Regions from separate parts of the Homo sapiens genome. Here region 2 is linked to region 1. Evidence: fine-mapped expression QTL. A gene starts in region 1. The other region holds a variant in brackets. All regions are shown on one strand. Distances are from middle to middle. Region 1 holds the start of OSGEP (O-sialoglycoprotein endopeptidase). Region 2 overlaps KLHL33 (kelch like family member 33).

Region 1 (2,912 bases):
TTTTTTTTTTTTTGAGACAGAGTTTCACTCTTGATGCCCAGGCTGGAGTGCAATGGCACCATCTCGGCTCACTGCAACCTCTGTCTCCCGGGTTCACGCAATTCTCCTGCCTCAGCCTCCCAAGTAGCTGGGTTTACAGGCATGCGCCACCACGCCCAGTTAATTTTTTGTATTTTTTAGTGGAAACATGGTTTCTCCATGTTGGTCAGGCTGGTCTCGAACCCCGACCTCAGGTGATCTGCCTGCCTTGGCCTCCCAAAGTGCTGGGATTACAGGCGTGAGCCACCACGCCCAGCCGTGTTTGGTACTTTCATCTAATCTTCAAGACCTAATGATACAGGTATTATTCCCATTTTAAAAACAAAGACCAGGCCCGAGCGGTGGCTCATGCCTGTAATTTCCACACTTTGGGAGGCTGGGGTGGGCGGATCATCTGAGGTCAGGAGTTCGAGACCAGCTTGGCCTGGTGGAAACCCCGACTCTACTAAAAATACAAAATTTAGCTGGATGTGGTGGCGCACACCTATAGTCCTAGCTACTTGGGAGGCTGGGGTAGAAGAATCGCTTGAACCTGGAAGGCAGAGATTGCAGTGAGCCGAGATCGTGCCACTGCATTCCAGCCTGGGCGACAGAGCAAGACTCTGTCTCAAAAAAATAAAATAAAATAAAAAATAAAGACCAAATGTCCAAAACAAAAATATTTAATATGAATATAGCAAAGCCAGCCAGTTCTGTCTGACATGTAAGCCGGGAGTCTTTCCACTCTCATCTCTCTACTCATCCTAGAATATTTCAAAAAATAATTTTTTTTTAAAAAGGGAGTGTATATTCAGGGCAACTGGAATCTATACTCCTGCTAAGCGTTTTTTAAACAGAATATTTCGAGTCCATCTCTATTATACTGTTTATCATGCTGTAGTATAAACATCTATTTATATGTCTGACTCCACAGCAGTATAACATCTATTTCTGAATACTTAGCACATAAAATGCGCTCAGTAAAAGGTAAATGAACTCATCAGATCCACGTCCAAGTGCCTGTAACTCTTCTAGTCATCAGCCTTGTGACGTTAATAATGTCACATAATTTCAATGAGACTCGGATCGAAAGCTGCACCTCACTAGTATTTAGGAAGATGGAAGGCTGATTCTGTGCGGGGAAGTGCGCGGAAAACTCTTAAGTCCCCTACTCACCAACCTGTGCCAGGAGGCGTGACGTAAGTCCGCCGCGGGTTCGCCAGCACCTTGCCATCCCGCACCACGCCCACGCCAATCTTATTGGCGCTGCCTTCAAAACCCAGCACCGCCGGCATGGCGGAGGCTGGGAGAAAACGCCGACAGGACTCCTGGCAATGTCAGGAGCTGTGGAGGTCCTCACTAGTCCGCGCTGGGCCGCAGCTTTCCGGAGCGCAGAGGAAGCTGGCCAGCCTGCAGATAGCACTGGGAAAGACACCGCGGAACTCCCGCGAGCGGAGACCCGCCAAGGCCCCTCCAGGGACCTGTCTTCCTAACTGCCAGGGACGCCGAGCCAACTCTGTGCCTTACATTCGTATCCGTTTTCCTATCTCTTTCCCGTGGTCCAGCCCAGCCTTCTCCACTGTTTTTTTCCCTCTTGCACATAGTTAGAATCTTAAGTCAGTGTCACACAATGTGCTGTGCATCTGGCACAACGATAAACAGCCCGAGGGAGGGTTGGGGACCTAAGTGTCCTAGAGAATTAGAGGAGGGAGGCGAGGCTAAGCGTCTCCGTCACGTGGTGTCAGACAGACCAATCACGCGCATTCTTCGGCCACGACAAGCGCGCCTCTGATCACGTGACCAGGTCCGCTACCCACGTGGGGGCTCAGCGTGCACCCTTCTTTGTGCTCGGGTTAGGAGGAGCTAGGCTGCCATCGGGCCGGTGCAGATACGGGGTTGCTCTTTTGCTCATAAGAGGGGCTTCGCTGGCAGTCTGAACGGCAAGCTTGAGTCAGGACCCTTAATTAAGATCCTCAATTGGCTGGAGGGCAGATCTCGCGAGTAGGGTACAAGGCACTATGAAATGATCTAGTTTCGTGGGTGAGGGGCTGAAGGGCCTATGATGCACGGAGGCGGGGAAAGGATTTAGAGATAACGTGGTTTGAAAGGCGGGACCTGGTGCGGGGACGCTCTTGGGAGGAGTCTTCTCCCCAGCCTTAGCTGGTTTCATGATTTCTTTGCGTCTGTAGGCAACGCGGTAAAAATATTGCTTCGGTGGGTGACGCGGTACAGCTGCCCAAGGGCGTTCGTAACGGGAATGCCGAAGCGTGGGAAAAAGGGAGCGGTGGCGGAAGACGGGGATGAGCTCAGGACAGGTAAGGGAATGAAATCAGCCCTTCTTCCTAGAAGCTGCGGCGGGGGTGTTTGTCATTCCCTTGATGTACGGTAAGTACGGGCCGACTCATTTTTGCAGGGGTTTGTGAAGAAGTCGCAGGAACCGTAGGCTTTCGTTGGGTCTATAGTTAACGCCGGATCGCAGTTGGAAACCACCAGCTTTTTGTCAGTATATATTACTCATTTTATAGAGCCAGAGGCCAAGAAGAGTAAGACGGCCGCAAAGAAAAATGACAAAGAGGCAGCAGGAGAGGGCCCAGCCCTGTATGAGGACCCCCCAGATCAGAAAACCTCACCCAGTGGCAAACCTGCCACACTCAAGATCTGCTCTTGGAATGTGGATGGGCTTCGAGCCTGGATTAAGAAGAAAGGATTAGATGTGAGTGGAATTTGAGGGAAAGAGACATTTTTTAGTATTGAATGGTCTTAGGGTTTAGTCACCCCTTTTCTCCGTTTAGCCTTCAGGCTGTTTTATTTTTCTCCTGCCCGTAGTTTTCTGTGGGGCTTCCCCAGTCTTGCCAGTTGTATTTCCTAAATGTCTGTTCCTTCACTTCCATTGC
Region 2 (2,912 bases), 29 kb before region 1:
CTCCATTCTATAATTCTATTAAATAATCTTTCTATGCAATTTTTCTTTTATTCCTTTTTTTTTCAAGATGGGGTCTCACTATGTTATCCAGGCTGGACTCGAACTCCTGAGCTAAAGCAATCCTCCCACCTCAGCCTTCTGAGGAGCTGGAACTATGGGCATGTAGCACGGTGCCTGGCACTTTTTCATTCTTTTGATTGAACATTGTTGCTTCTACAACCCAGAGTGTCTGTCTGGGTAAGTAATAATTCTTGGTTTCACAGCTAGTGAAATTTTCATATAAATTTGCTCTTCTATTTTTTTAAACCTTCCTTGCTATCAATTTTCCATATATTATTATTATTAATTTGAGACAGAGTCTCACTCTGTCACCCAGGCTGGAGTGCAGTGGTGCAATCTCAGCTCACTGCAACCTCCGTCTCCCGGGTTCAAACAATTCTCGTGCCTCAGCCTCCCATGTAGCTGGGATTACAGGTATGTGTCACCACACCTGGCTAAAAATTTTCCGTATATATTATATTTAACACAGAAAAGATTGGGAGAAGACACTAAGTCAGTTTTTCTTTGGGTAGTCCAGTATTACATGATGAGTCAAGTAAAGAAGAAAAGATAAAGGAAAATAAGCTCAAGAGGATTCCAAAGCTTCAGGCCCAGGAAATAGGAGAAATGATAGTGCCAATAAAGCATGAGGAATCTGAACTAATGATGCTGGCACATCTAAATGGAGGTGAGAATCACTGAAAAAAATCAGACTAGAACCCAGGCGAACCATCAAGGTTGGAGACAGAGGAGAGGTGAGCTTCCTGACAGGGAGCATAAAACAAAGGAAAGGAAGAACGTGAGCAACCCAGCCAGGACTAGGCACAGGAGACAAGTGATACCTAGAGTCCCACACACTTACTTGTACTAAACATTAACCTGCATGTCCAGTCCTACCCAGTACCTGAGTCAACCTTGGAAAGATAAGAGAGATATCAGAAATTTCACCCTCACCAGCAAAGGGGGTGGAGGGAAGACTGTTGGGGGAGCTATTAGAGAGCATCTAGAACACCTTGGCTTATCATCTGATTCACCAAAGGTAAGAATCCCAGGCCTCTACAGTCATCAAACTAGTCTTGCCAGGTCACCACCACGGCTGCCCAATCTGTATGCATAGTTTCTATCCCAATTCCTACTTCTCACTCCACTTCCCTTCTGGGGTTGAAATGTTACCCTGATATTACCCTATTCTTAGTCTGCCTGGCTGAAGACCCAGACTGTTACCTTGCCTATATTCAGTCCCTTCTCACTGATGAATGGACTATTGACTAGGGTCCTCCTTCAAGTCAGAGGTCTCCTCTCTCCTCACTCTTCCCTCAGTTTTAAAGACAAATAATGAAAGTCAGAACTTTCTGCAATGAACCACCCTCATCCACATACCTGTGGATCCTTGGCTATCAGCTCCAAGGATGAAGCCACACCCCCCTGGACACTTTGATCTGGCTTACTGGATTTTGGATTGGAGAAATAAGAGAAGGTCCATCCAGGAGAGTGTGCTATCTCTAAAGCCAGAAGAAGAGAAATTTTTAGGGTAAGAGCCAGTTTTCACGCCAATCAGTTCCTGTAGAAAGATGAAAGAGAATGAAGATGGCCACAGATTGTTAGATTTGGTAAGAAGCAGGTCACAGTAACAGTGGAGGGAGAT[G/A]ATTTCAATCATGTGGTAGACCTAGAAGGCAGAATACAGGGAATTTTATTTTGAATGCTTTTTATAGTAGAGAAACTCAGATAAGAAAGATTCAGTCACTATGAAACCTTTATTTAAGTCTGCCTTTAGGTACAAATCACAAAAAATGTTCATAGAAGTTCATCCAGAGAGCTTGTCATCTCCTTCAATTTCCTTCTTCCCGTTCTTTATTCTTCCTTCTCTTTTCTCTTATACATCCTACTTACCCCTTCTCATTTTCAATTACATTCCTAGTCTATCTTAAATAGAGATACAGAAAAAGATCTTACTAAAATAACGAAATCTAAAAATAAATAAATAAAATACATGCCAAGTACTTCTGGGGCCAGAATGAAGAAGGGTGCAAGGGAGACTCCATCATCACCCTTAGAAACATGAAAATCTTAATAAACAATGGTAATAGAAAACTGACCTACACAGGCCGGGCATTGTGGCTCACGCCTGTAATCCCAGCACTTTCGGAGGTCGAGGTGGGTGGATCACCTGAGGTCGGGAGTTCAAGACCAGCCTGACCAACATGGAGAAACCCCGTCTCTACTAAAAATACAAAATTAGCCAGATGTAATAGCTGTAATCCCAGCAACTCAGGGAGGCTGAGGCAGGAGAATCACTTGAACTCAGGAGGAAGAGTTTGCGGTGAGCTGAGATCACGCCATTGCACTCCAGCCTGGGCAACAGAGTAAAACTCTGTCTCAAAAAAAAAAAAAAAAAAAAGAAAAAGAAAATTGACAACAGGTGCTGGAGAGGATGTGGAGAAATAGGAACACTTTTACACTGTTGGTGGGACTGTAAACTAGTTCAACCATTGTGGAAGTCAGTGTGGCGATTCCTCAGGGACCTAGAACTAGAAATACCATTTGACCCAGCCATCCCATTACTGGGTATATGCCCAAAGGAATATAAATCATGCCGCTATAAAGACACATGCACACATATGTTTATTGCATCACTATTCACAATAGCAAAGACTTGGAACCAACCCAAATGTCCAACAATGATAGACCGGATTAAGAAAATGTGGCACATATACACCATGGAATACTATGCAGCCATAAAAAATGATGAGTTCATGTCCTTTGTAGGGACATGGATGAGATTGGAAATCATCATTCTCAGTAAACTATCGCAAGGACAAAAAAACCAAACACCGCATGTTCTCACTCATAGGTGGGAATTGAACAATGAGAAC

The links. PIP is the estimated chance that this variant, and not a neighbour inherited with it, causes the effect.
Region 2: its variant is the best candidate, but not a certain one, in a credible set for the expression of OSGEP in whole blood (INTERVAL, PIP 0.72).

Annotation. Positions count from the first base shown.
Region 1 is chr14:20,453,371-20,456,282 of GRCh38, forward strand. It overlaps OSGEP (O-sialoglycoprotein endopeptidase), which reads right to left and starts at 1,442. Exons shown (of 11, transcript NM_017807.4): 1 at 1,199-1,442. The coding sequence starts at 1,313. APEX1 (apurinic/apyrimidinic endodeoxyribonuclease 1) reads left to right here and starts at 1,856. Exons shown (of 5, transcript NM_001641.4): 1 at 1,856-2,024; 2 at 2,208-2,333; 3 at 2,544-2,731. The coding sequence starts at 2,276. RefSeq lists a silencer at 1-92, promoters at 1,355-1,799, 1,429-1,966, 1,631-1,965, enhancers at 1,390-1,479, 1,900-2,119 and cis regulatory regions at 1,426-1,756, 1,687-1,842, 1,713-1,754, 1,751-1,756, 1,767-1,799 and 2 more.
Region 2 is chr14:20,424,078-20,426,989 of GRCh38, forward strand. It overlaps KLHL33 (kelch like family member 33), which reads right to left. Exons shown (of 5, transcript NM_001365790.2): 5 at 1,775-2,912. Among named protein-coding and RNA genes, the nearest start is that of KLHL33, 11 kb to the right of the region's middle. The variant G/A (reference allele first, on the strand shown) is at 1,685.